Linked DNA regions of Homo sapiens: regions 1, 2, 3, 4 and 5 are each reported to be linked to region 6. Evidence: microRNA targets listed by miRTarBase, many of them from high-throughput screens and not tested one by one. Region 6 holds a microRNA gene; each other region holds the end of a gene's coding sequence.

Region 1 (5,128 bases), not on the chromosome of region 6:
GAGTTCTTCATTAGTTCACGTGAAAGCTGGTTTTTTAAAAAGAGCTTGGGCCAGGCACGGTGGCTCATGCCTATAATCCCAGCACTTTGGGAGGCCGAGGTGGGTGGATCACTTGAGGTTAGGCATTCGAGACCAGCCTGGCCAACATGGTGAAACCCCATCTCTACTAAAAATACAAAAATTAGCTGGGCTTGGTGGCGCATGCCTGTAATCCCAGCTACTCAGGAGGCTGAGGCAGGAGAATCGTTTGAACCCAGGAGGCAGAGGCTGCAGTGAGCTGAGATGGTGCCACTGCACTCCAGCCTGGGCGACAGGCTGAGATGCTATCTCAGTAAATAAATAAATAAATAAAATAGATAAATAAATAAAAAGAACTTGGCATCTCTCTTGCTCCTGCTCTTGTCATGTGACACATCAGCTCCCCTTTCCTTCTGCCGCAAGTAAAAGCTTCCTGAGGCCTAACCAGAAGCAAATGCTGGCACCATGTTTCTTGTATAATCTGCAGAACCATGAGCCAAAATAAACCTCTTGTCTATAAATTATCCAGCCTCAGGTATTCCTTTGTAGCAATGCAAAATGGACTAACACAGAGACCATTAGTTTGGAAATTGTGTCAATGTAGACACCAGTTTTTAGGGGTTTGGGTTGGATTAATGCTGTCACTATCTTCAGTATACTACAGGCTTCAAATTCTTCCAGTGGTTGACTGCTGTTACCTTATGCTTACAGTGCACCTGGAGTACAGGAGGACTTTTCTGAGTCCCACCCTCAATTTTCAGGGATCCCTGTATGCCTACACCACAGAGAGGATCTATATTTACACCCTTGCTGCTTCCTCAACAGACTGGTTTTCCTTGTTACTTAGTGCTAGGCTTATAGCAGAGACAGGGGGTTTTTTGTCCTTGGCTAGCCTCGGTCTTAGGCAGGCTTTGTGTGCCTGGCCTTCAGGGATGTGGCTTTCTCAACATTCCTGCACCATTTCTCAATAGTAGTCAAAATCTGTTTCAAATCTATTGTTGGTCTTGTGCAACAATTTCATGCTCATTCCCCACTGGGAGCAGACCTCTTTATGTTATCCATGTGGCTTCCTGGGCCCAGATTTTCTGCCTATCCTCCAAGGTCAATTTTTGCTTCTACTCTTCCAGCAGTAATATTGTTTTCCTGTGTCCTGAAGGCAGAACATTTCCTACCTCTCTCTCAAAAGCAGATGGGTTTTGTCTACATTCCTACCCCAGAGCAATGAATTTCTGCCTGGGCCCTAGGAATGATTGTTGTTCCTCCCTACAATAGCCTAAGGCTTTTGCATCATTCAAGAGAAGAGCTTGAAAGCAGGCAGAATTTCATGGCAGCCAACTACCTTCTGTTTGCTTAAACCACCTACTGAGACTTTCTGGTTCCACACCCTGCTTCCAGTCTTTCTTAAGTCCTGGTGTAGGCCCTTGGGAAAGAACTTGTGAGTGTGTATGAAGTTCCCTTATTTCAGATTCTTGGCTATTCCAAACTGGTATGCTAGCCCACATGTACACTTTAGGAATTTCTTAAAATTTTTGCCAATATTTTACCTGTTTATATAAAGGCCATCTCTTTCTCTTGGGTTCTTCCTAAGGTTAAACAGTCAGTATGTCCCATCTCTCCTTGTAGGGCTTATCACTCTTTGGGATTTGGTTTGTTTGCCTTGTAATTTCAGTTCTTTGATATGTTCAAGAAAAAAAGCTTTAATTTTATAGATGACCCAGCCTTTTCTCCTTGTTAAAATGGGAATGACAGTCTCTTGAGGTTTTCCACATCTTCTTGAGAAGCAGAGCTCTGACTACCTCTACTAAAGTTAGTTGATTTTCTGTTACTCTCTTGTCAGTATCATTTCCATCACTGCACATATTAAAATTAGTAATTTTTTTACTTTGTCTCCTCCATTAGACTTTAATCCTATAAAAACATATACTACATCGCTTCATTGTTGTAATCTATTATACCTAGCACCATAATTGTACATATAGTACTCAAAACTAATACATACGACAGGTATTCATATTTTCAAAAACCAAAAACATTAACCCAACATACAGAAAATACTGTTAAAAAACATCCATGGAAATATTGATGAACAGAGGGAGAGGAGAGGCAAGAGCCCAAATGCAAACTGGGAAATTGTATTCTGAACCATCAGTTAGGTTTTAATTTATAACCTGCCTGGAGACTGTCTACAGTGTTGACTGAGTTCAAAACATAAAGCACAAATAAGAAAAGTATACCCCAAACCACACTTCTTTAATTAAGCTCTAAGAAAAACTCAAATAAATGAAATAGTAAAACTTTGATCAGTAATTCCTTATTGTTTATTCTCCTCTTACAAAAAGACACTTGGGACAAATAAATACAAAATGGCATATATCATATTTAGCAATGGGCAAATACACATTTTCTTGGTATTCTCCACAAGAATAAACTAATAAAATTTTCAGAGGCATACTCTTCTACCCATCTCTTACCCTCTAAAAAAAAAAAAGGCAATTATTTTAATTCCCTGTAATTTTTAACAATGAATTCTCAAAATAAGTAATCTAGGACTATTCAGGGACCAAGACATCTGAATCAACAAGTTAAAAAAAAAATGTCTGTATACACACACACACACACACACACACACACACACACACGATGTTGCCCAGAAGCTCCAATTAATGAAGAGTCTTAAAAGTTTTTCATTTCATATAGTTTGCATGAATAGAGCCTGTTCTATTCTAATCTCAATGGCAAATAATATAAAACAGAAAGCTGAACACAACATGTGTGTGTGTGTGTGTGTGTGTGTCTACTTTTCTGTCCTAAGAGAAAACATTAAATACAGGTATATTTAATATACAGTGAACATACCATGTGTTTTCTTAAAGCCAACAAAATCCTGATTTCCTATAGCTTGGAGGTGATACAGAAGGCAGAAGACAAATATCAAATTTAGCTAATAAAATATACCCTGCCTATTGGCTCCAGCAATACACTATAGAGTTTGAGCAATGACGGATACCCAAGTGTATATGTTTTGTTAAAATTTATCTTCAGGCTAATACCTGAAGAGGTTGGCTAATACTTTAAATCAAATATTCTTACTTAATGATTTATCCATCAAATGGAAATATGTACAACATATTTCAAATCAGAAAAGGGGTGAATTTTCCCCCTGCCCTTCAAAAAAATATTTTTAAAAATCCACTTGAAATAATTTCTTATTTGATGCTTTTTAATCACTTTCCACTTTATGACAACCATTTTTCTAGAAAGGCAGACAAGAATATAAAATGACTAAGGGGTCACTATGAAAACAATCAAATGGATTTGAAATTTACTTCTGTGTATTTTCTGTACTCCCTAAGTCTTGTGCTAATTAATTACATTTTACTTCATCCCCTGTAATGTTACAAATATGCACCTTAAAATAGAAAAACTTGCTTTTATATTTTAAAACCCCCTCCTCCTTACCTATCTTCCCAAATATTTTAAGCAGAAAATTAATCTTGTTGCTTTAAGGATTGATGTAATATTTGCGAAAAACAACCCCTAATAAACCCTTTAGACTTTTTCGAACCAGCACCAAATTTAAGGGGTTTATTCACTCTGAGGTTGCATGGAAGATGGAAATTAAAAATATCAGTATAAGTAGAACCACATTTAAGAAAAAGCACCTAAAGATGGAGGACAGATAATTCTAACATCCTACACACACACAGTGGTAAACCATATTCATGTTTCTATGTATGTAATAAGTTCTCCAAAAATCTAGGTATTTTTGGTTCTGGTACTAAGTCTAAATTTTTTTTTTTTAAATTTCAAAGGCAATTTAAAACTGGGGGGAAATACATTTTTAAAATTTTGGGGTTGAAGTTCACTACACTATGAGACTAATTTCGTATGTGGCAAGTTGCAACTCTCCAAAGGTGTGAATAAACATCAGAAAGCCCAAAGTGAAGAGCCAGTACATCAACATGCATGATCAGGAATCCTATGAAAGTCACAAGGCATTGGGATTTGGTGATTTACATTAACCTCCTCCTGGTAGAAGATAGTGTTTCATGATGAATGCAGACTGTGCTCACTGCTCATGAGACACACACATCACTACTGCTGAGGTCCCACTTTGTGATAATTTAGAAATCATCCAAATTTAACTCCAGAAAATATAAATCTGGAATATGAATGTGAAGACAGACAGTACAAACAGCAGTTGAGTGAAACCTGCCTGTAACGATCTTTATTTTTTTTTCCTTTAAGGCTACAGAAAATCTGTACATAAACAAGGCAATTAATTCTCATAATAAAAATAACCCCTTACAAATAGCCAAGGTGTCCAGTCAGATTCCATAGTGAGTATATGTTGTATCACATTTTATTCCACTTGTGTACTTTTTTGTGAGTCTGCTGGGTTAGGATCAATTCTTTCTGGAAATATTAGCTTCTCACAAACTGCTTCCTTTATTGGTAAATACTGGGATATTTCATTAGGTTCCGTGAAGAGGGAAGGTGGAACATGCTAGGAAATACATAAATCATATTAGCATATTCAGTTACTGTACTGAAATTTTTTACAAATGTTTTGGTTCAAGCATTCATAAAGCATGGAAATTTTAAAATCAGGTGCAATATATGCATATGTGCTCCTAAAAATAATAGGTATTTCTTGATACGGAATCATTCAACTTTGTTACTGAATGATTTCATCAAAGATCACAGGGTTATATAATCTATAATGTTCCCACAAATGTCCTAAGAATTTAATACATCTTAATCCAACCCTATGTATCTCCTGCTTTTGTAACTTGAAAACACTAGTCTTCGGTTAGAGCACAGCATGTAGTCTACAATAGAATCTAAGTAGTAACTTTTCTGTTCCAAGTATACTCTATACCCAGACAGAAGTACATACTAAGCGTGAAAAAATAAAATCAAGTTTATAGGAAGGTACCAATTTTTAAGCAACCCATTATAGAATCCTAAGTTCTAAGGAAGGCTTCACAGGTCCCGGGGAGTAAAAAATAAAGAAAAATGATGCCAAAACAAACAAATTATGGTACAGAATCACCACATTTTCGGAAGAGAAAAGGAGACTATGTAGAAAGAAATAAGGCGGCAGGGT
Region 2 (5,128 bases), not on the chromosome of region 6:
CATTCATTTTTTCTTCTTCTGTGAATAGTCTATTCCTGTACTAATGTTAATGTACTAATGGATTAATATTTTTTAACTGATTTCTAACCATTTAAAAATACATTATGGACTCTAATTCCATACTAGGTTATGATAGTACCTTTATTTTTTTAAATGATATATTTATTTTGTATCATAAAAAATAACATGTTTATTATAAAAAATTAGAAAATAAAGAAACACATTATAAAGAAACATAAAACCCCTGTGATCACATTTCCCAAGAATAATAACTATTTTCAATTTGGGATCTATCATTAGAGTTTTTTCTTGTTATGCATATATACCTTTCTGTTTTAAAAAGCTAGGATTGTATTATACATATACCTACTTTATTGTTCAGCTTTTTTAGCGTTTAGTCTTTCACTTAATGGGTAGCACTCACCTAGCTGGTAAGCTCAATGAAGGTAAGGGCAGTATTTTATACTATTTGGAGTCTTGCATAGCACAGAGTCTTTAGTAAAAATTTATTAAATATTGACTTGCTGTTTCCTCCATTTCAGCACATCCAGGTGTGAATGGTGTCATGGTCCCAAGTTTGGTGAAGGTTTTCGTGTCATCCGATCCTGTGATATTTTTGGAGCATCACAGCTTCCAGTTATGTTTTATGTCTGTTCTCCTTCTTGCTATAGAAGAATAAAGGAAAGCAGTTTTGTTTTAGATGGTAGTCCTAGTAGAAGAATAGCTCTAGATGTGGAGTTGTCAAAAGAATTATAGTACAATGATTTATCGTATGTGTGTGTATATATATATATATATATATATTTATATATATATATATTTATATATATATATTCATATATATATATAAACTTTACTGGCTTTTACTGCATATATATCTGCATATAGTAATTCATCTCTTTGAAAGTAGAGGTTCTGTTTGGAAGACATAAGTGTCTTCTCATACGAATTATCTTTGTAATTCTAGCTCCTTATGAAAGTTTGTGATTGTTTGGGAATTGTTGCAGAATAATTACTCAAGGAGGATTAGTAAAGCCTTTAGATTTGAATAAAGCTCTAGAAAATTTCTTTCAGAGCCTGTTTACTATAAAAGGAAAAATGTTGGAATCCTTTGCAAAATGGGTTATGTCTTACAACTGGTCTTTTCATGCATCCATACTAAGTGATGAGATAGCATTGCAGAGTCATCAGTGGGGTATGTGCTGCATAGAGCTTCAATGTCACACATCCAAGTGCTCAATGCTTGTGCATTTCTGTGGAAATCTGACCAGCACCTTCCATCTCAATTGTAGGTTGTTTTGGGGAATAAAAGATTAATTCTATCCCCATTTGTTTGTTTAAATTAATGTCCCAGGTTCTTAGAGAACTGGTACAGTCTTTAATTGTTACCTTGAACTTCATGTCCTAAAGCTGAGCAACTGGACATTAGTCTGATTCCATAGGCTAGCACCAGCATCTACCAAGGCCTACAGTGATAGCCTGACACAAAAATAAAATACAGCTTACAAAATAACATTGCAAAGCAGCATATACATATAGTAAAACTTACTTTAAGAATTAACGTTTGGTAAGAGAAAGATAAAAGGGCATTTTGATATACAAACAACTTTAGAATGGCATAGAATTGTTTCACATATCTTTACACACAGTTCACTTAAATCTCAAATATCATTGCTAAATTTAGTGATATGAAATGATTTACACAGCTATCATCATTAATGTCAGAAAATATACATTGTCATGTTTGTGTGTATCTTTTAGTGATATCATTTAAATAAAGATAAATCAGGCAGAATAATTTTTCTATTGATTTCAATAAATTGCAATGCTTACACGCTTTTCCTTGAGACTCTGTTTCATTTTTCAGCAGAATCAGGTAAACTTTACTTTGCTTGATAAGTATACACTATATTCTCCAGCATAAGAATAAAATTATTTATAATGAGAGAAGTAACTACCATATTACACATGCATGCAGAAAGGGATATTTATAGTATGATAAATTAATTCATTAAAATGTAATATACTCATAATTAGAAAACAAGATGAAGAAAATAATACTAACTCCCTGTGGCATATAGTTTATTAATACTCACCCTTGTTCCTGAAATATTTCTTGGGGAAGAAATATGTTTATTTATTTATTCAAAACATGTTGGGTTTTGGTTTAACTGAGTAATTTCTCAATGAAATAGGAAATAAAAAAGAATAGCTTTCAAGGGAAATGACAAATTCTGAGGGACGTTTCAAAACTAAATATACCTAGATACTTAGACAAATATGAAATATACTTAGAACCCAATCTCTTCATGCTTAGTATAAACCTTGAATCTGAGTGATCTCTTATAGATCTTCCAAAAAAAGTAACTTACAGTATTTTTTAATGAAAGTAAGACATATTTATTATAGAAATATTAGAAAATACAACTAAACCTAAGAAGAAAACAAAATCCTCCTTGTAATGCCTCTGTAACTCAGGTTCAGTCATCCACTGCTTGCAGAGTCTGAATAACAAGAGCAAGGTCTGGTGGGAAAAAAAAAGTGACTTAATTCAAGAGCTACCCGAGGGGAAGTAGTACAGGCTCCTGCCCTGAGATACCACTTCAGCCTTCAGGGCAGAAGGCAAGGGCTTTTAAAGGGGGGATGGGGAGGAGGGGAGGAGGTGCGGGGTCTGTGTGACTTGCTTCAGATGTCTTATCTATCATGTGGTCTGGCTGGCGCCATGGCAGGCAGCTACGTTGTAAATTGAGGCAATCTCTTAGTGGGTGAGAGTTCCAGAGGGGCCTGATTTGCTTCAAGTTTTGGTCTCTGCAACTTCTAAGTAAACACATAGATAAGCTTGCCATACCTGATGGAGAGAAGGTAAAGGTTATAATTGCATTCCTAAAGAGCTAAGTAGGAAGCGGGGGAAAAGGAAAAAGAAAAAAAAATCATTTTTTTCCTTTTAAAAATGGGGTACTCGGCTACACCATCAACCAATGAAAGTCAGAGGCAATCATTTCAACATGTGTATGTGTGCATACATTTGTGTAATACATATGTGTAATACATTTATATAATGTATTACTTTTTTTAAAAATGGGATTATCTGCCTCACACCACAACAAAGATTAATTTCCAATTTTAGGCCTAAAGGTCTAAGTTGAAATATAAAAATAAATAGCTATGGTCTTTAAAAAATCAGATTTAGATTTTTTTAAAAGCGGGTAATGAAACCTCAAAGAAAAGATGAACAAATTTACCATGTAAAAAATTTTTAAATGTCTGTCGAGCAAAAATAACCAAAAATAAAGACAAGCAGCACACTGGGGAACATATCTATACTATATATGACCAGAAAGAATGAGGTTTTCAACAACAACAACAACAAAAAATATATATATATGTTGTGCATGTGTCTCCTGGCACAACTCATTCAGGACTCAAACTGTGTCATCAAGGCATTATCTAGTTTTCTGTCTATCTAATCTAGCTCACTCTATCTATTTATCTATCTATCTATCTATCTATCATCTATCTCTTACCAATACTTTCTAAAAATTTTGTCTCATATCCAGGTAATATGGATGGTCACTAATCATTCCAGGTTCATGTACAAGAATCTCAGGAACCTCAGAGGAAAACACACTGTCTATCCCAACTGTTACTGTAAAATACATTAGGGATGATTTTCATTGGCTCAGCCTGGGTCACAAATCCAAATACAAACAAATCATTAAAGCTTCATGGATGGCATACCCTGGCCAGGCCTGAGTCACATGCCCATCTCTGGAACTGGGTAAGGCAGAATTAGCCCCTCCCAAAACATACTAATTAGATTCTCCACAAGAAAGGAGAATTCTAGAACTGAAAACTAGGGGAAGAAAAAGTGTTTTGGACAGCTAAAATCTGGAACTGTCAGAGACCTCTAAAACATCCTGACATCCAATAAGCTGTTACAAGTAGCAATAACAACAAAAGATGACCTTAATATAGCTATAACAATCAACATTTAATTTTTGTTTTTTACCATAATAAGTCTAATAATTTTCTGCTAAAAAATACTTGTGCGTATGTCTAAAAATATATTCAAGTATACTTACCACCAGGATATTTACAATAGTGAAAAACTGGAAACATTCAAAGAGTTCATCAATATGTATGTAAATCCATACAAGGCACTATCATTCAGTCATTTAAAAATTAGATAACTGTTTCCTTAAATGGAAAGATATCTACCAACTAGTTTTTGAAAAATATTTACTAGGTAACATAGTCACATAACTCAAAAGGTACAAAAAAGTGTATAGGATAAAAATTCTTTCTTTAACCCTGATGCCTGGCATCCTTTTCCCTTCTCAGAGACAACCAATGATATCAATCATTTTGTATTCCAGGATAGCTTATGCATATGTATGCTAACATATACATATATTTCTTCCTTATCTGTATAATATTAGCATAATATATACTCCTTTCTGCATCTTTCCATTCAAATTATGTCATAGAGGTTATTCCAGATCAGTACATTATTAGTTTATGTTCTTTCTTTATGGTTTCATATTATTCCATTGGGCAAACATATATAGCTTATTTCACCAGTTTACTACTTGATGGACTTTTAACTTTTTAACCTCTTGCTTGGAAAAAAATGTTGTGATGAATAAGTTTGTATGTTTACATATATCTGTGGTATAATTTCCTGGAAGTAAATTGCTGGGTCAAAAGGTATGTTCATTTATATTTAATTGGGAGTTGGGAAAAATATGTATTTATTTGCTTTTTAAATAGGTAATACTAGCATACTTTACCCAGCTCAAAAAAGATTTAAGAGTGAAAAGTCTATTTCACATTAATTTCCTTCAGATGCCCACATATTGTTAACCAGCTTCTTGCATTTACTTAAACACTAAGTACCTATAAGGATGCAGCTGTATATAGAAGAATTTTCCTTATTCCAGTAGTGCTTTTTTTTGTATTATATAATTTAAGAACAGCATTAGCGTCATTCATACACTTGTTAAAAATATGGATTCTCAGACCTACCTCCAACCTACTAAATCAAAATCTCTGGGAATACTATCCAGGAATCTTAATTACTACCCGGTCTCCAGGTGACTCTAATGCTTGCTGAGCTTGAGAATCACTG
Region 3 (5,128 bases), not on the chromosome of region 6:
AAGACAAAGTGGCAGTCCCTGAGTTTGTTTGGCTGGCAGCCTGTTGTGCTGTCCCTGGAGGAGGCTGGGCCATGGGCTTTGTCAAGCACACCCGGGACAGTGACATCATAGAAGATGTGATGGTAAAAGATCTTCAGAAACTGCTTCCATTTAACCCTCAGCTGTTTCAGAACAACTGTGGTGAAACTGAGCAAGACACAGAGAAAATGAAAAAAATCCTGGAAGTGGTTAACCAAATCCAGGATGAAGAACGAATGGTACAATCTCAAAAGAGTTCTAGTCCCCTTTCTAGCACCAGGAGCAAGAGGTCTACTCTGTTGCCTCCAGAGGCATCTGAGGGAAGTAGTAGCTTTTTGGGAAAACTCATGGGCTTCATTGCTACCCCATTCATCAAGCTTTTTCAATTAATTTATTACCTTGTGGTAGCAATCCTGAAGAACATTGTCTATTTCCTGTGGTGTGTTACCAAGCAGGTGATTAATGGCATAGAAAGTTGCCTTTACCGCCTGGGCTCAGCCACCATCTCATACTTCATGGCCATTGGGGAAGAGTTGGTGAGCATTCCCTGGAAGGTGCTCAAGGTCGTGGCCAAAGTCATCAGGGCTCTCCTCCGGATCCTTTGTTGTCTGCTGAAGGCCATTTGCCGAGTTCTGAGCATCCCTGTCCGTGTCCTTGTGGATGTGGCCACTTTCCCTGTGTACACCATGGGCGCTATTCCAATTGTTTGCAAGGACATTGCACTGGGCCTTGGTGGCACTGTCTCACTGCTCTTTGACACTGCTTTTGGTACCCTGGGTGGCCTATTTCAGGTGGTTTTTAGTGTCTGCAAGCGGATTGGCTACAAGGTTACTTTTGACAATTCTGGGGAGTTATAAACTCAAAAAACTAATAGTATCCAGTCACAGTGAATTTGAAAGCTGGAATAGTTTGTCTTTACAATGGGTTTCTGTTCACTGTCAGTTATCATTATATTTTGGCCTTTGGTGGGGATGTCTGCTTGTTTTTGCAAAAGAAGATGGCAGAATTTAGACTTGACAGAGGAGAAATGCTCAGGGTGAGATTAGGTGTAGTAATCTGCTGTTTACCTCCAGTTATATGTGCAAACTCCCAAGCCACTAATAACTTCAGTTATGCACTCTAACACAGACGACCACCTGAAATGCACTGGTATTTATTTCTGATAATTAAAAATTACAGGGGAGGGAAGAACTAGAAAAAGAACAACTTTAGACCAAAGGTGTCTGAGAAAAGGAGAAAGGGAGCTTGTTCTTCCCATTGCTCTTTGTGATTTAAGGCAAAACAGATTAAAAAAAAAATCTGCAGCCAATTTCTTGGCATTTGCTTCTCTTTCTCCTCAACTCGACTGACCTTGGTGGAATGCAGATAATGCCTCTTTGTTGAAATAACTTTGTGGGAATGTACAATTTTCTATATCTCTTAGCTTTCCGTGGTTCTCAAGGATATGTACAGTTTTCATTTTCCTCCAAAGTTGAATTTTGCTACATTTTTCTTTTAGGTAATGATAAGCATTTTTTAAAAAATCATTTTTAGGTAATGGTAAGCATTTTATGCCAAATGTGGCATAACAGAGTTTGAATTGAAGGGCAAAGTTTTCTTTTCTTTTTTTTTTGGGCCCCTTGAATGGTATAATACAGTCCTCTCCGGTGGAAAGAAGAGAAGAGAAGGTGGACAGCCCTGCTCTTAGTAGGTGCTGCAGATCCAAGGACATCTTTTGTCCAGCTTGGATTAACTTGACGTGTATCCCTGCCTGACAAGGTTGAACTGAAAGATCTATATGTTAAGCTAACATGAAAATTCATATTCTGCAACATAGTAGATTTTTCTAATGCATGAAATAAGTACCCAGCACAGTAAAAATACTCTGACTTATGTCCCTAAATGGTTGTTTTGATACAACTATATAGAAAAGAGCCACAAAATAAAGATAAAAGTTATTGTGGCCATCTCTGAAAAAAATATATAAAATATTTAAGAATAATTATATCTTAGGAAATTATTTTTACAGTGTGTTTGAGGCTACAAACATAACTCCCCCATTAATACAAATTAAATGTGAGAGCTCATTCTCAAAATTTTTTTGATCAAGCACTTGTCATTTTAAATCTTGCACTAAAAAATGGTAACAAGAGGGACCAAACTTTGCTTCCCACAATTGGGATGGAATCACCTGGATTTTTCTGAATGTTTTAAAGAATTGCTGAGAGGTAGAAACAGCCAAGTATGAAATACTGATCTTGGGGCTACCGCCCAGGATCAATCAGAAAGTTATATGCAAAAATTCGGGGTCCCAACAAGGAGAGAACAATATGTCAACCATTTGCATGGGGTCGATGGATGAGAAACATGAGCGTAGCAAGAGTTACATTTTGCAGAAAAATAGCGGAGGCACACCCAGAGTAGAACAGCAGCCAGCAAGCTGCCATCCTGATCAATTTGTGATGCAAGGTTAGGGAGTATGAGCACCGCATGGGTCCATGCTAGGGAGATGTGCACCAGGCTTAGCTAAGAAACTTAAAGCAGTATTTTACCAACTCTTGTCTTAGGGAGCATAAAGTTTGGATGTCCCTTTATTTCAGCAGTGTGAAGGTAAATGGAAGGGTGAGGGTTTGACTTGGTACTGATTGGTCAAGAATCCTGCTGGATAAAGAAAAGGAATTTTAGAAGTGACCAGAGGGACAGTCCAGCCAAACTATTATTTGATAAGGAACCCAAGGCCCTGGGAGGCAACAGGCTAGCCCTTAGTTTCATGGCTAGCTGAGAGCAGATTAGGAGCCAACGTTGTTTGCACATGTCCCATCACACCTGAGATGTCAGACATGGGAAGTTCGTGCTATTATTCAGTTGCCTCTCTGGACCATGGCAAGATTTCCTCATTCATCAAACAGACTCCAGGCCCTGACAAAGCAGTTGGATTTGGCATGTGTGATGAAAACAATTAGCCATCCATGTACAACATTATGCTTACTGCATCCCATGGAAACTTAATTCCCTCCTAGCACATATTTGCATACTGAAAGGTCCGAAAAGGGCATCCACGGCAGCTTGAGCCCCTTAGCACCATGTAAGGAGCACAGCATCCAAACGGCTTCTTGAGAACCATTGGGGAATGTCTTTCTTTTTCACATCCAATTGTTTAGTGTCTATTTATTCTTGGGTGGCCAGTTTTGAAACCTAAAAAGGGACAATAAAGCAAAAAGTATCAGTAAGGATAGGTGGCTGAGACCCACTGCCCTGAGCTACTAGTGTGGCTGTGCCTGTGGGTCTCTAGAACCATCTGCATTGGACGTGAAGCCACAGCAGGTGGCTGGACTGCTGGCCTGTTCCTAATGAGCTACGCTGGGCTTTGAGGTAGAGGTTGGGGTTTATGAACCCCAACTCTGGCTTAAAGATCTTGCTGTGGCTCTGTTATGTTCTGAGGCCTTGGGATTAGCCTCTTCCTCATTATGGAGCTGATTTTCTAGTCTGTGGATCAGCTATGCCTTTGGACACTTCTCTTTTCCATTGTGCCTTTTGAATGTTGTCTTCTCACTCAGCATCAGCACTTCGATCTAAATGCAGACTAGGTAGTTGGGAGGAGGAACCAAAGTGAACCATCCTTCATTTATTCAGTCATTCGTTCATCTGTCAAACACGTATTTGGACATCAAGGTTGCAGAGATGAACAATGCATGGATTTCATCTTTGAGGAGTTCAAAACCTAGTGGAGAGAACACATGGTACAATCGTAACACATGAAGGACAAGTAAGTGCTGCAGTAAAGGTACTAATAACATGTTCCTTGGAACAGAGGAAGAAAAACCACGAAACCATGGAAATTAGGGAAGCCTTTACAGAGGGTGTGACAAAACTCAATTTGACATTTTCAAGCTATGTACAATGATGTGCACCTTGCAGATGCTCAATAAAGTAATTACTGACAACTCGTTAGCAGTTCTGTAAAATATCTAAAAGGGGAGAATCCTAATAGTTGAAATGAGGCTTGGGGACTGTGAATTGTTGCCATTTTCTTCTTGATCCGCATTAATTCAAGCAGCTTCCAGTGACTGGCTTTTGTTCATTTCTTTAAAAGTTTGCATCATACATGAAAAAACAGAGAGGTCTGGATCAGTGAAACAGGACTTAGAACTATTTTTTAATGTTATTGCTCTGCAAAGTATTTGGGACAATAAGTGTTTTTGATATCTTGCATAATTAAGCACCAAAGACTTACTGCTTCACTGAATCTGAATCACATAGAAAATTATAGAAATACTTTTATTAGTTTGTTTATTCATTAGGAAGCTCCCACAGTGAGAGAAATTACAAGCAGTCTCTGACGGGGGCTGGTCCTCTCTGTGGCCTTTAGTAGGGTGATCCTCTTGGGTGGAGGTGGCAGTAATTCTTGGCTGCCTTCCCAGTGTGGGCAGCATCTTGCCTAAGCTCACCACAGAATACGTGTTTGTCCAAATGTTACACTACAAGCCATATAGTGTGGACTGCTTGCTTTTCATTAATGGGTTCTCAGTCTTCCCATTGTCTCTCTTTGTAGGTATTTTCCCCCAGGTCATGGATTGATGTCTAACTCCAAATCAATTTTTAAGCTTAAATTTCAACAAAGAAAGTGCTTATAACCACTTGTCATCCTCAATTATCCATTGTGAGGAGGTGGATGTAAGATGACTTCTGGAGGCCAGTACTTCCTAATGATTAAGAGCCCACGCTCTAGAGTCAAAATGATGTAGGCACAAATCCTGGCTTCCCCACTTATTGTGTGATCTTCAGCAAGTTACTCACCTCGGCTTTCTCATCTATACAATTATGAGTACCTATCTCAAAGGGTTGCTATGAGCATTAAATGAGTTAATGAACATAAAGCATTCATCACTTACCATGCTTGGCACATGGTAAGTGCTCAGCAAATGTTAATTGTTGCTAGATCTATTGTGGGCAATGATATTTACACTTCTTGGACAAAATTGGTTTGATGGTGCCTTAGAGGTTAGGATGTTTCTAGATCAACGCTGGAAGAACCAGGATCAAAGTGTGGTCTGGGAGTCAAAGTCATGAATGAAAATGAAGCAAGCCAGAACCTCATCAGTGGTGTCCATGAATCTGAAGGTACAGATGA
Region 4 (5,128 bases), not on the chromosome of region 6:
TGGAAATTGTTGATTTGATTCTAATTCAAGGTTTACAGTGTCCTGAAGGAAGAGGACAATTTATGGTTTGGGAGGTAAAAGCATGCATACCAAATTAGTTTGATGGCAATTATAATTGTATTTCTTTAGGCACAATTACTGAAAAACACTTGTTAAGGACATTTGTCATCTAACAATTATAAATTTGGCAACAGTTACAACAAAACAACAAAAGCTCCAGAATGTTTAAAAGAAATACAGGAAGCAGAGGCATACTTTCAAGTGTCAAAAAGAAATATGGGATGGTTTGAGGAAAGCAAAAGTCTTCTTGTGATGAGGCTGACTAAAATGTCTCTCATAATGGGAAAAGTTTCACTCTCAGACTTGTTAATTTTATTTCATGTTCGAAGACATGCTTATTATAAAGAATATTTAATTTAAGGTTTAACAGTAATTAAGCAAGCAAATATGCAATATTTCAATTAAAGTTGAACTTGTTTTGTCTCTTAAACAAGCGAACTATCTAAAAAGTAGAGGCTGCCTTGTAACTGTTTCCTCTCTCACCAATTGCTACATCTGACTCTCAATCTCATAAACAAATCCATCAATATATAGAGTATAAAATTTGCATGTGAAATGGAGGTATTTTAGAAATGTTCTCCAGTTAATATGGCTTATAATAGCATCAAATGCATGCCTTTCACAGACGGCAAAACTTCTTGGCCAAACCCTGTATTGCTTTTATGAAAATATCAAATATATACATACCTTATTAAATTAGAAATGAGGCCTATACGTCTCAAAGCATAGAATTTAACAGTTGCTAATATTGTCATAATATTTTTCTTGACCTAAAAATAACAACTGTTGAAAATACACACACAAGAATTTTAGAATTTGAGAATATATCTTTTATTTATAGGATGAGAGTGTTAACTCTGAGAGAACATGGTATAATGAAACATATTAAAGACAGCATATTACTTCAATAAGTAACTGTGGTAGTAATGTTATTGTTAATTTGTATAATGTGTGTATATATTTTTCTGCATTTAAATTTTTCATTAATGTTTTTCCTATGAATATGATCAAATTATGACATCTATCATAAATAAATGTCATATTTTATTTATTTTAATTTTATATTCAAATGTTTTATTTTTCATCTTCTTTCCCCACCAAACACACTGATATGTAAATGTAATTGAGACACTTACAACTAATCTATGCAGTGTTGAATGCTGCTCCTGCAAAATACTCCATAAGCTAAAATTAAGTTACTTAGATATGTGGCAAAAAACCATGAATATGTGAGATTATATAGATTTGTTTTATATTAAAATAAATGCACAATATTTTAGCCAGCAATGCAAACTTATTATTTACATAAATCTTATATATTAATTTAGAGTATCATTAAAGTTTGTAAGTGTGCACATTTACACACATACCCATATACATATGCATATGTGTACATACTTATGTATAGTAACTCCTAAAACCTGTAAATGAAGGTTAGGTTTTAAAGGCTAAAAATGTGTACATGGCTGCTACAGGATTATACCTGTAGCATTAATATTGACAACAAGATGGTGTAAATTTGTCAGGCTTTTTCTTTTGATGTCTTAGGCAGTGAGACCACCTGGAAATAAAAATGAGAAATAAATTTAAAAAACACATTTCATAATTAAGATATCCTTTAACTAAGGTATGTCTGCCAACAGTAAGGGAATAACTGATACAAAAAAAGTATGATGGAGCAACTGGCATAAGGGAGTGTAGTATAATGGGAAAAAAAATGTCTGTCATATAGGTACCCCATACTTAAAGTCCTTCTTCTAGTCCTACAAGAATGTGCAAACTTCCTAGGTTACTATTTGTCAGGATCGAGTTACAAAAACAGAAACTATTCTTAGTCTTTCAAAAAAGGGACATTTATCACAAGTAGTTGATCATATAGCTGCATTAGGTATATATGATTTACTGCATTGACATTTCTTTTTAAGATCATTAAATGATATCATACAATTTAGCTGAATAGATATTAGGGAGTGAGAATTTTATTGTTGTTATTGTTTTCTCCTTAGAAATTTTAATAGTATGCTTTGGGAATTATAAGGCTTTTAAAGGGGCTTTTTGTTATTTCTTTAGTGGCCACATATGTTAGTAATAAACAGCCCCTACCCAGTGTATATAGACCTGCTTTACAATATATTGTCACATATATATAGTTGTATATGTGTATATAGTTGTATATGTATATATTGTCATATATGCATATAATCTAAGAGCTTTAATGAACATATTTTATAACATATGTATAATCTGAGAATTGAAAATACTCCATAGACTAACAAATCTAAAAATCACAATTTAAAAATGAAGAAACTGAAAATTTTTTTAAATATTTTAAATAATGTGTACTTTGATTTATATAGGTCATCTCTTTGTGAAGTATATATGCATGCTCACATAGAAACTCATACACACACACACATGCACATAGGCTTTCATAGAAGATAGGTATTTAAAGATGTAAAAATAGAACAAATTTTTTCCACTCTGAATGTGCCCAAATTACCAATGTACTTTTGCTTTGCAAGTGCATACAATCCATTTGAAATATGCATATATTTGTGTATGTGTATATATATGTGTATATATATACACATATACACACGTACACACATATTTTGAAATATATTTCAGAAGATGTATAAATATAATTTACATACAAATATAATCTATATATTTCAAAATATATATTTAGAATGATTTTCAAATAATCTACAGAAAATATTTTAATTGTAAATTTCAGTATGATAACATACAATGTCTGTATTATTAACAAATAAGTACACAACTAAATAAAAATGTTACACTTTTAATATAGCTATAATTTCCGCAAGAATTTGAACTAATGACATAATACCTATGACACATCTCACTAACAGATTGAACAATAAAAGAATTAAATTATTGTCAAAATAATGAGATTCAAGTAATTTAAATGTCAAAACTTTAAAAAATATTTACTTTAAAAATCAGATACTTTTTAAATTAAATTTTATTTTTTGAGCGACATAAGAATTGAACATATTTGGGAGATACATAATAATGTTTCAATACATATAATTTATAGTGGTCAGATCAGAGAAATTAGAGTATCCATGGTTTCAAATATTTATCATTTCTTTTTGTTGGGGACAAAATCTCCTTTTAGCTATTTGAAACTAAATGGAATATAATGTTCTTAACTATAGTCGTCCTACAGTGGTATAGAACACCAGAAATTATTCCTCCTACCAAGCTGTAACTTTGTATCCTTTAACAAATCTCTCTCTAGTCTCCCTTTGCTGCAGCTTTCCCAGCCTGTAGTATCCTCTGTTTTATTTTTTACTTCTATGATATCAATTTTTTTAGCTTCCACATATAAGTAATAACATGCAATGTTTAACTTTCTGTTCCTGGCTTGTTTCACTTAACATATGCCCTCCAATTCCATCCATGTTGTCCTGAATGACAGGAATTCAGTTTTTATGGCTGCATAGTATTCTATTGTGTATATATACCACATTTTCTTTATCCATTCATCTGTTGTTGGACACCTAGGTTGCTCCTATATCTTGGCTATTGTGAATAGTGCTGCAGTAAACATAGGGTTCAAATGTCTCTTTAATATACAGATTTCCTTTTTCCAGTAATGGTATTGCTGGATCATATGATAGTTCTATTTGTAATTTTTGAAGAAAGTCCATGTTGTTCTCCACATGGCTGCTCTAGTTTACATTCCCACCAGCAGTGTCTAAGAGTTCTTTTTTTTTTCCCGCATCTTCACCAATATGTTATTTTTATTTTATTTTGAGACAGTCTCACTCTGTCACCCAGGCTGGAGTGCCTTGGTTTAATCATGGCTCTCTGTAGCCTTGAACGCCTGAGCTGGAGCAACCTCGAGTAGCTGGGACTACCTACTGGCATGTGCCACCACGCCCAGCTAATTTTTACTTTTTAAAATTTTTTTGTAGAGACAGAGTCTCAATATGCTTTTTAGAGACAGAGTCTCAATATGTTGCCCAGATCTCAAACTTCTGAACTCAAGCAATTCCCCTGCCTTGGCCTGTCAAAGTGTTAGGATTACAGATATGAACCACCACGGCTGTCATATTTTTTGTCTTTTTGAAAATAGTCACCTTAATTAGGATGAGATGATATCTCATTGTGGTTTTGATTTGCATTTCTGTATGAATAGTTAATGTTGAGCATTTTAAAAATATACTTATTGACCATGTATATGTCTTCCTTTGGGAAATGTCTGTTCAGATCGCTTTTTCATTTGTTAATCAGATTTTTTTTTTTGCTGTGGTATTTTGTCTTATGCAAATAGTATTGTGAAGTATTAATGAAGTAAGACAATTTTATTCAAGGACCAATCCCATGCAAATACATTCAGAGCTGTTCTTAGTTAATTGCATTTATAATTTATACTTTTTATTACCATGTGCATTTCTCTAAATTTAGTGAAATTTTACTATTTTATATTTTTACTCAGTGTATATACTGTTGCTCATGAATTGTTGGAGTATAATAGTTAACTATCCTTAACTAAGTCTTATTTATTGAATTTATATGTTGCTGTTTTCTATAGGAGATAAGATTCTTTTTTTACAATATGAATGGAATCATTGCTGATTTTCTATGAATATATGAATTGAATTTTCTCAGATAAATCTTATGTTTCTTTTGTGCCCACAAAGACATCTGGATACTCATCAGAAGTGTAAAAATTCCAACTAGAAGAAAAAAGAAATAATTATTATTTCTTTCTTATTTCTATGAAATGTTATATTAGGAAAAGGATCCCTAGCATGTTTAGCTTTTAAGATGTTTCTCAAATGTTGCATAATTTCTTATCAATTTTCATTATTCATACCCATTCCCAAGCAATAGCCAATCAATATCGCATGAATGAGTAAACACAGAAAATACATTAAAAATTAAAAATGAATCTACATATTTTATATACCACTGCCACAAAATATTCCCAAATAAGGATTTATTTTTGTACTTAAAAATTTTCAATAATAGTTGCCTGTATGCATATAATATTCCTCTACATGCACATAATATAATAAACCACATTAATTGTGAT
Region 5 (5,105 bases), not on the chromosome of region 6:
GTGGAAACTATCAGTGGCTAAAAGCTACATACTGAAAACTTAAATTCCTGCTATCCATTTGAACTTTTAGAAGTTTGGGAATTGTGAACATGGCAGGCAGAAAGACAATCTAAATACCTAAAGTCCAACAAAAGGAATGAGAGAACTGGCCTATTGTGAAAAGCATTCCAGTGTGATGGATTCCAAGTTTTATAGTTGGTATTCTGGTTATCAGTGTAGGATTTTTCTCTAAGATGGACTCCATAACATGTTTCCTATTTATGAAAAAGGATTTACAAAATATAATACAATACAAGCAAATTACTACCATTTGGGGGCTGTAAAACTTTTGAAAAAACTGGTTAAAAGAAGGTTCCTAATTGTAATCTTCCCCTTCAAAAGAAATACTGAAAATGGCTGTTCTCTTAATACTGCCTTTGGGGCAATTTCTAATTCTCTGACAGCATTAGGAACCCCTAGATTTGTAAGCCAGATCTCTAAGTAAATAATTTCACAGCATCAATAATTTTTAATTAGTAAATGATAAGTTCCTAGTTGGGAGTGACTTTTCCTCAAACCTGTAAGGTCTCTAAGTTGCCTAGCACAGGGGGCCCCAACCCCTGGGCCGCAAACCAGAACCAGTAGTGGTCCATGGCAGGCTGTATAACAGAAGGTGAGCGGCAGGCAGGCGGGCGGGCAGGCGAATGAGCAATACCACCTGAGCTCCCCGTCCTGTCAGATCAGCAAGTGACGGTATTAGATTCTCAGAGGAGCGCAAACCCTAATAATGTGAACTGCACATGTGAGGGATCTAGGTTGTGTGTGCTCCTTCCTTATGAGAATCTAATAATGTCTGATGATGATCTGAGGTGGAACAGTTTGATCCTGAAACCATCTCCCCAACCTCCCTGGTCCGTGGAAAAATTGTCTGCCATGAAACAAACAGATGATGGCTGGTGCCAAAAAGGTTGGGGACTGCTGGGCTAGCAATCAGCAAGATGGTAGCCTAAGGAAAGCAAGATCTCCTTTCTTGTTGCTGTGTAGCTTGGATTAAAAACAAAACTCAATGGGAACCCCATTACTAAGTCATCAAGAAGTAAAGCTGTTGGCTTTTTAACCTTGGCTTATCCTGAAGACTAAGACATGACACCAGCATCCTAGATGATAAGCAGCATCTGGAGCTGCATTTGGAGCTCCATTCTCTTTAGCATACATTTAATTATACAGCTTTCTCATTTAGAAAACTATTAGAATGTCAATGTTGAAATACTGGGGTTGTGGAAAAGACATTTAAAAATACACCGCCCAGTGAGTGGCAGGTGACCACTGAAATTTATGGCAGCGCTTTAGGGAAAAACAAACAAACAAAAAAACCTACTGGCTTTCTGACTTAAAAGTAATGCACTACTCAATATAAAGCAAAGATAGTATGATATGCTTCACAGCAGATTTTCACTCATCCATTCAAGTCTTTCTGTATGGTTCAAGGGGTGGATATTAGTCTATCCACACTAGTACAGAACAGACTAAAACATTTTAACAACACTGAAAGACTAGGACCAATCATTCCTAAAACGACTTTCCTATAGTTCCTCCCACTAAATTTTAAGTCATCCATTCCTTTGAGATGCAGTATTTCAGCATTATTGTAACAACATTTTATACAAAGAGATTTTCTAAACTTTATAGGGAGCTGGATCTGTAAACAGGAAGAAAGCTTCTACCAATGCATATTTGGTTTAAATAATACCAAAAAATGATTATTTCAGAGATTTATTGCAAGTTAATTGTCTGTGAAGCTGGATATTCCTTAACATGAAGGTAATAAACTTTAACGTTCCACTCAAAAAGACAAAAACCAAACAACGAAAAATAAGAAATTAACCAGAAAGCTATAGCTTGTTTTCTTACTCAGAAAAAAAGTATAACTGATAAGGTACAATTTCTGTAACTGGATATTTTTCAAAATTATAAGGCTTTTAGTTCTAAAAGTATAAAGAACTGTGATGCACTTCTAGTCAACCTAATCTTGCTAGAAGCTTTATCAACACTGACAGTCTCAATACTTTCTCTTTTGCTATTATATAGTCAACTTTAAAGGTAATTCCTTAAAGTAAATTTGTGTGTTCCTAAAAATATGGACTAAAGTTGAATGGGCAAAGGTATACATCGCATTTTCTGGGGGAGTAGGGGAGAAGTCATTCCCAAAAAGTGAAATATTTAAACAATTTTATTCTTTCTTTCACAACTAAACACACCTTGAGGCTGAGGAACATGTGATTTGCCATATGATTTCCAACCTTTTCTTATCCATTATGTTTTAACACTTGTTTTCCCTACTTTTAGTCATTTTTACAAACTGAAGGTAAAGATACAGTAACTACATGAGTAGTGAGTACATGAATTTTTCTATATAAAGAAAGTGTGACTCTACTAAAATTGAAGTTTTGACTCACAGACACTGCTACAATGAGATAACTTGAGATATTGTCTTTGGTATATAATGGGCAATTATGGGGTATTAATTTATGAAACTGAATATAGAAAAGTAAAGAATTGCCTACTTTTCTATATTCCATTTCACATACTGATACCCCTTAATTGAGTAGAGCTGAAAGAAAATTCAGAAATCATTAAATCAAAACTTAATTCCTACATATAAAGAATGCGGCACAGACTTGGCTAAAATCACACTTCTCATAGATGCTTCAGCAAGAATCAGAGTTTGGGGCCAATAATTCCAGGTCAATTATTCCTTACACTATACACTACTCATTATTTGGAAATTTCTCTCCCAACAAATCTTTGTTACAATTATTAAAAGAAAAATGTTCACATTCTGTTTTCTAATCTCTCTTCCTAGTTCATGTTCTGTTGAATAAAAGACAGTTACACTTCAGAAGTACAAAAGGTTGGGATCAAATAAATAGACAATTTAAAGTAGATAAAATCAAGATCTGATCATAGTCCTTTCCTCTATTCCTGAAATTCACTGATTTCAATACTGATTCTTAGATATTTGTCACCTACCTTTCGGACTTGTAGACAATGCTGTGGCAACAGATCTCAAGATGTAGATTTTAATGCCAAAGTATGGGTCCATTTGAGCACTTTGCCTTTATGGCTACTGAAATCATGAAATCAATTTCTCTCAAAGATTTTACTCTCAGTGAGGTCACATACATAGTTCTTAATCAGTGAAAATTATAGGCAGCTTTCTATTTATCCTTTAAAGGAAATATGTCTTAGATGGAAAGAATATAAAGTAGTAAAGCAAAAGTTAACCTAGGGGAAATTTTTTCACCAACAGATTATCTAGACATCAATTCATAATGCACTGGGAGATCTATAGTATATACCACATGGTATATTTAGGGTACACAGCTCTATAGGATTTGAGATGGCTGCTCACAGCAGGAGCTTAAAGAAAGATATGGAAAAAATATATTTTATAAAAGATGGAAAAATTCAAGTTGTAAGGAGTAAAAATGAAAATTTGAAAAGTTAACGCATATTTGTTTTTATTTATAGGTAACTACCACATGAATTATAAAGACAACAAAGGATGTCAGAATGAACATGGATAGGTGTATGCATACTACGGCTAAGGAGAAACAATGTTCCTACATATTATGGGTAGTGAGAACATTATCTGTATAACAGGGAACTGTGATTATTTAAAAATATGCAGAACTTATTTCATCTGTGCTTTAGAAATAACTGTATACAGTGTTATAAGTTGAAAAGAACTCAAAATAACTAATACCAAATATACACCTATGTATTAGAATTCAAAAAAGCTGCTTTCTGTGAAGTCAATCAGCTATATTAAAAAATGACACAAATCCAAAACAAGATGCATGTTATATATAAAGGGACATTGTAAGTTTCCTTGCTGCATTAAACCCATGGTTTAATCCATGAAATTTCCTTTTAATTATCATTTAGACAGAAGCATGCAAATAGTCTCAGGATCTACTTAAGAACCTTTCCCAAATCCACTAGTTACACTCCCCTTTTCAGGAACTAAGCAGGTATTCGGGTAGCTGCTTCCTCCTCTGCATCAGCTCGGTTTGCATTAATTTCTGCAAGTGTTCGGCCAAACCGTGCCCATTCATCATTGCGGGGAACAGCAATCTGCTGTTAAAAGAAAGACAATGTTTTATATACAATGAAATAAAAGATCATTTTACCCACTATTATTCAGTTTGTTTTCAAATAATTTTTCTGTTAAAAAGTAATAATTGACCTGAATGGCCTTTCCATAATTACGGGGACTATAACAATGATTTACAACATTTCAAAACAAAAGACGGTGTTTGTGAAGTGTGTTGTGACAGCCTCAGAAATGACTTGGCTATTATCACCACCAATGCAAGAGAGAATAACAATGATGCTTTGTAAATATAACTCCTATGCACCATCTCATGGATTTTGCTGGAGAGGAATTCCTTAAAATTTTTTTTTTACTGTATTCTTGCAAAATTCCTAGTAAGAAACAGTGTTTGAAGCATGGTTCATAAGGGGGCTCGTTTCTTGTAAGTATTTTTCTTTGGAACATAAGGTAATCTTTCTTGATACCTTAACTCCTTCATCAAAAGCTGTGCTACTATTTACCACTTTAGTGCTGCACTGGTGGCAAAAGAGCCTTGTGATGCTTTACTTCAGAGGCAGCCCAATAACATATATATATATATATATATATATAATTTTTTTTTTTTTTTGAGACAGTCCCACTCTGTTGCCCAGGCTGGAGTGCAGTGGCACTATCTTGGCTCACTGTAACCTCTGCCTCCCAGGTTCAAGTGATTCTCCTGCCTCAGCCTCCCCAGTAGCTGGGATTACAGGTATGTGCCACCATGCCTGGCTAATTTTTGTATTTTCAGTAGAGATGGGGTTTTGCCATGTTGGCCAGGCTGGTCTCGAACTCCTGACCTCAGGTGATCCACCCGCCTCATCCTCCCAAAGTGCTGGGATTACAGGTGTGAGCCACTGCGCCCGGCCCCAATAACAAATATTTTTGATAACTGCCATTATAATATCATAGGAGTCTGACACTGTCATGTTAGGGCACAAACCACTCACTGTGGCAAATGGCTGTGCCTGTTTATAAATCTACACTATCC
Region 6 (5,128 bases):
AATATGTTTCACAAAAAATTAATATGGAACAGGGAAATCTGAGCTTCAATTCATTCCATGTAAAACAATTTCATATGGCTTTGATTGGTTGCATGTTCAATTGCAGCCAAGTAGTTACCAAAATTATTCCTCATTCTGAGGCTGCCTGAACAAAAACACACTAAGTACAGATCAGGAGACAGTATGACCACTGTCTGGCCACAAACGTAATACTATGTCCTGTTCTTTCTAACATATTTTAAGAAAGCACTTCACTTTGGGAAGATGATGATGCTCATAATGAGAGATGGCAAAAAGAATGCTCAAGGTAACTGGAATTGCTTTTAGCCAGAGAAAGGGAAAACTTAGTTGGGATCTTACAGCCATCCTAAAATACTGCAAGGTTAGTGTGGCAGAAACTGCTGGATACTACCCCAATTTTTCCTTACTTCTTCATTAATAGAATTACAATTCTATTGAGTATGGCAACGTGCCCAGGTATAAAATGTATTTCATCAAATCCCATTTTAGTTAAGGCCAATGAGGCATATGTTGGTCAGGACTTTAAGAACAGACCCTTTAAAAGATCAGTTAGCCTTAGTGGGCATGTGCCTTTCTTCTTTCTCCAAGTGGAATATTACAATGATGACTATAGCTTCAGCCTTTATCAGCAACCATGAGGAAAAGACAGAGAGCTTGGGTCTAATATCTTCAAGACACTGAATTAACACCAACGCTTCATTCGATTTCTCATTTTGTGAGAAAAATATTTAGAGAAGTATTTGGAGAAGTCCACTGTTAATGAGTTTTCTGTTACATGAAGGAAAACACGAAACTCTAACTGATACTAGGTAGATATAGAGAATGCACAGACATGCATGTTTTCGCTCCAGAAGGCAGAGCGTGAGCAAGCTAAATATAGCTAGGTATTAGGTCAGTATGATGAAAAATGTAATGATGGAGCTTTACAAAAACTGAATGGGCTAGCTAAAAACATAGCGACTCCTGTACTAGCAGTTCAGTAAAGTCTGCAGGGCAACACGCCAGCTACACTAAATGAGGTCTGCCTAGGAAGCAGTGGAAAAAAAATTTTGTGAACTCCTAAGGGTTATTCCTTTAAACTCTAAGATGCTATGGCTGGACTTTTTTTAGAGTAATTATATTTGTCTATTTCATGTTATGGTAGGAATTTGCCCTAAGGAAGTAGAACTAGTTTAGCTCAGAATGGCAATATTTCTTCTAAAACTTATTAGGAAACTAGAAGGAACGCTTTGTGGATGTAGTTTTCCTAAAGGTCATGCAGAACTTCCAGGTATTACAGATTTTGAAAGATGAATAATAGCCATTTTAGTGGTTATCTTTTTTTTTTTTTAATAGATGGAGTTGTCCAGGCTGGAGGGCAGTGGCATGATCTTGGCTTACTGCAACCTCCGCCTCCTGGGTTCAAGTGATTCTCCTGCTTCAGCCTCCTGAGTAGCTGGGATTACAGGCCCCTGCACCACACCCAGCTAATTTTTGTATTTTTAGTAGAGACGGGATTTCGCCATCTTGGCCAGGCTACTCTTGATCTCCTGACCTCAGGTGATCCACCCGCCTTGGCCTCCCAAAGAGCTGGGATTACAAGCATGAGCCGTCGTGCCCAGCTCATATCATTCTCAAAGGACTTTTGTAGCACACAGAATGGTTTCTAAATAATATTATCCATATCTTGACTAACACGGTGAAACCCCATCTCTACTAAAAATCCAAAAAATTAGCCGGGCGCGGTGGCGGGCGCCTGTAATCCCAGCTACTCAGGAGGCTGAGGCAGGAGAACGGCGAGAACCCGGGGGGCGGAGCTTGCAGTGAGCCGAGATAGCGCCACTGCAGTCCGGCCTGGGCGAAAGAGCGAGTACTCCGTCTCAAAAAATAATAATAATAATAATATCATCCATAATATTAGTTGATAGTCTCTTCATAATTCTAAATCCAGCATTTTTCAAAGCATTACCAATGAAGGAGAACTTTTAAGATGAAGCTAAATATAAAAAAAAAGTGAATTACTGCAAATTACTATACATAGTATAATTTGAAATTTTGGTAATATTGTCTAAGACAAATCATCCTTTTGGGATAGTTTTTTTCCATACTGTTCAAACTACCCTTCATCCTATAACGGCAGACATGGCCTAATGATTCTCATTTTTAATCAACAGTGTTGTCAGACATTTCAATGATTCTGAACATAATGTTATGACATTCAGGGCCAGAGAGCAAGCATTCTCTACTTGCTCTCAGCTGAAAGCAAAGAGGTTCTCAAGAGCTGCCAGCCTTTCTCCTTTATGCTCTGAAAGCCTCCTAAACTTGTCAGTTTACTTCCATTACCCTTTTATTGAAAACAATGAAAGAAAAAAAGTTACTACGGTGTTTATACTTTTAAAGTGAATGTCTTTTGTAATAAGGTAGAAATATCACAGAACCATCGAATGTTGGAATCAGAAGCATGTTTGGCATATCATCAAGTACAATAGCCACATCCTGCCTATGTGGAAAGCTGGAGGGGCTAAAGGACCTCTCAAAGCTACACATGTAGAGTCAGCAGCAGAGCAGAGCTTAAAGCAGCAAGTGACTCTTACGGCCATCAGTAATCACACTCTTGCTTAACATGCAAATGAATAAAGCTATTTTTATAAAATCCCTCCCCCCCCCATATATTGGCAGTAACTCTAAATTCTAGTCATTTTTTAACCATTACAGAATAAGATTAGAAGCATCAGTAGTTAATGGTGATAATAATTTCCATTTTATATGGGGTTTTATGGTTCACAAATATATTTTATAAAATAAGTTTCTAACATTTCATTTTCTTATATTGAGGGCTTTTAAAAGAAATAACCAAAACCTATTTTATTAAAATTTGATATTTAAAATTATAGTTGAGAATAGTGGAAGATTTTTCCCATTATCTTTGCTCTCCTGGATAGCAACCAGATAAATGACTTCCCAGAGAAATGCATAGAGTCATATAAGATAAAACGTCTTTTTTTCTCCATTTTACTCAGAGTTTGATGATGAACTATGACTGGATATTGAAATAATCATTCTTTTATCCTTTGTAGTAAGGCTTACTTTGTCCAGTGGCAACATGATCAGACAAGCAGCTCTCAGATGACATGTGACAATATTAAATTCAATCTTAGCAAGCAGCTTCTCAATTTCACACTTGTGGTAGCTGGATTAACCCAATTATTTTTTGGAGGTTAAGGGAAACTTTCACATTTGCAGAATACCATCCTTCAGAAACCGGAATGTAGGATTTTGTTATCTCAAAGAATTTTATGGAGATGGAAAGATCAGTTAGTATTAAATTTTAGCACACAATCAGATGAAGGGTTTAGGAAGAAGTAGATATGATTACCTAATAATTCACTTTGAGTTCTTCACTTTGAGCCTCAAAAATGTGTGAAACTTGGGACTTTTACTAAGCATATCTTTCAGGCAAAATATTTTCATTGTACCAGTTCCAAGCTCTTGGTTCTAACACAAAACCCCTGCTACACATACACACACATGCACTCACACACACACAGGCTACCTATATATACACCTGCTATGTGTGTGGATATGTATTTACACATACACATATCAGGTGTATACATACGTAGCATGTATATATACACATACACACACACGCACACAGGCACACACATACTTGTTACCTATATATGTATACATGCACATATCAGGTGTATGTAAATGTAACATGTATATGTACACACACGCACACAGGCACACACATACTTGTTACCTATATATGTATACATGCACATATCAGGTGTATGTAAATGTAACATGTATATGTACACACACGCACACAGGCACACACATACTTGTTACATATATAATTACACATGCACATATCAGGTGTATGTAAATGTAACATTTATATATACACACGCGCACACAGGCACACACATACTTGCTACATATATATACAGTCAGGTGCTGCATGATGACATTTTGCTCAAGAACAAATCACATACATGAGGGTGGTTCCATAGATTATAGTGGAGCTGAAAAACTCTAGTGGCATTGTTCTCATTGTGACATTAGTGCAATTACTTAATTTTTAAAACAAATTTAGTGTAACCTAAGTGTACAGTGTTTATAAAGCCTACAGTAATGCATAGTAACGTCTTAGGCCTTCACATTTGCTCACTGCTCATTCACAGATCCACCCAGAGCAACTTCTACTCCCACAAGTTCCATGAAAAGTGCCCTATACAGGGGTGGCAATTTTTTTTAATCTTTTATATCATATTTCGCTGTACCTTTTCTGTGTTTAGATATGTTTAGATATACAAATACCACTGCATTGTAATTGCCTACAGTGTTCAGTACAATAACATGCTATGCAGGTTTGTAGCTTAGAAGTAATAAGCTATACGACATAACCTAGTTGTTTAGGAGGCTACACAATGTGTTTGTGTTATGTGCACTCTATGATGTTCTCTCAACAATGAAGTCACCTAATGATGCATTTCTCAGAAAGCATCTCCATTATTAAATGGCACATGAACGTATTTGCTACATATATACATACTGGCTATAAACACACACACACACACACACACACTCACACACACCTGCTACAGTCCTTTCAAAGTATAAAAAAAGATACCAAAATGTGTTAGAGATTCGTTTGTAAAATGTAACTATTTTCGGACCAGATGGATTCACAGCCGAATTCTACCAGAGGTACAAGGAGGAACTGGTACCATTCCTTCTGAAACTATTCCAATCAATAGAAAAAGAGGGAAACCTCCCTAACTCATTTTATGAGGCCAGCATCATCCTGATACCAAAGCCAGGCAGAGACACAACCAAAAAAGAGAATTTTAGACCAATATCCTTGATGAACATTGATGCAAAAATCCTCAATAAAATACTGGCAACCCGAATCCAGCAGCACATCAAAAAGCTTATCCACCATGATCAAGTGGGCTTCATCCCTGGGATGCAAGGCTGGTTCAATATACGCAAATCAATAAATGTAATCCAGCGTATAAACAGAACCAAAGACAAAAACCACATGATTATCTCAATAGATGCAGAAAAGGCCTTTGACAAAATTCAACAACGCTTCATGCTAAAAACTCTCAATAAATTA

The links. The annotated mature microRNA hsa-miR-4789-5p reads GUAUACACCUGAUAUGUGUAUG and lies in region 6 at 3,594-3,615, opposite strand. An mRNA with a match to its seed (bases 2 to 7 or 8) in the 3' UTR can be bound and repressed. Matches are read on the target gene's strand: a 7mer-m8 pairs with bases 2 to 8, a 7mer-A1 pairs with bases 2 to 7 and ends in A, and an 8mer does both.
Region 1: miRTarBase lists TIPRL as a target of hsa-miR-4789-5p. Seed matches in the 3' UTR shown: 7mer-m8 at 2,619-2,625.
Region 2: miRTarBase lists LRRC63 as a target of hsa-miR-4789-5p. Seed matches in the 3' UTR shown: 7mer-m8 at 779-785.
Region 3: the mRNA of ENDOD1 is a reported target of hsa-miR-4789-5p. The part of its 3' UTR that is shown has no 7-base or 8-base seed match.
Region 4: the mRNA of TECRL is a reported target of hsa-miR-4789-5p. Seed matches in the 3' UTR shown: 7mer-m8 at 2,651-2,657 and 7mer-m8 at 2,643-2,649.
Region 5: the mRNA of DYNC1I2 is a reported target of hsa-miR-4789-5p. Seed matches in the 3' UTR shown: 7mer-m8 at 3,750-3,756 and 7mer-m8 at 2,742-2,748.

The regions. Positions count from the first base shown.
Region 1 is chr1:168,199,300-168,204,427 of GRCh38, reverse strand. It overlaps TIPRL (TOR signaling pathway regulator), which reads right to left. Exons shown (of 7, transcript NM_152902.5): 7 at 2,319-4,525. The coding sequence ends at 4,382. Among named protein-coding and RNA genes, the nearest start is that of TIPRL, 23 kb to the right of the region's middle.
Region 2 is chr13:46,276,048-46,281,175 of GRCh38, forward strand. It overlaps LRRC63 (leucine rich repeat containing 63), which reads left to right. Exons shown (of 10, transcript NM_001282460.2): 10 at 543-1,068. The coding sequence ends at 756. It overlaps LOC105370194 (a long non-coding RNA gene), which reads right to left. Exons shown (of 3, transcript XR_941946.4): 3 at 1-665. LOC124903170 (a long non-coding RNA gene) reads right to left here and starts at 3,794. Exons shown (of 2, transcript XR_007063785.1): 1 at 3,739-3,794; 2 at 2,377-2,848.
Region 3 is chr11:95,128,705-95,133,832 of GRCh38, forward strand. ENDOD1 (endonuclease domain containing 1) reads left to right here. Exons shown (of 2, transcript NM_015036.3): 2 at 1-3,941. The coding sequence ends at 875. Among named protein-coding and RNA genes, the nearest start is that of LNCRNA-IUR, 19 kb to the right of the region's middle.
Region 4 is chr4:64,275,431-64,280,558 of GRCh38, forward strand. TECRL (trans-2,3-enoyl-CoA reductase like) reads right to left here. Exons shown (of 12, transcript NM_001010874.5): 12 at 2,272-4,769. The coding sequence ends at 4,642. Among named protein-coding and RNA genes, the nearest start is that of TECRL, 130 kb to the right of the region's middle.
Region 5 is chr2:171,746,790-171,751,894 of GRCh38, reverse strand. DYNC1I2 (dynein cytoplasmic 1 intermediate chain 2) reads right to left here. Exons shown (of 18, transcript NM_001378.3): 18 at 1,737-4,119. The coding sequence ends at 4,006. Among named protein-coding and RNA genes, the nearest start is that of DYNC1I2, 62 kb to the right of the region's middle.
Region 6 is chr3:175,368,039-175,373,166 of GRCh38, reverse strand. It overlaps MIR4789 (microRNA 4789), which reads right to left and starts at 3,627; the gene lies at 3,546-3,627. All of the region lies in intron 5 of NAALADL2 (N-acetylated alpha-linked acidic dipeptidase like 2), which reads right to left.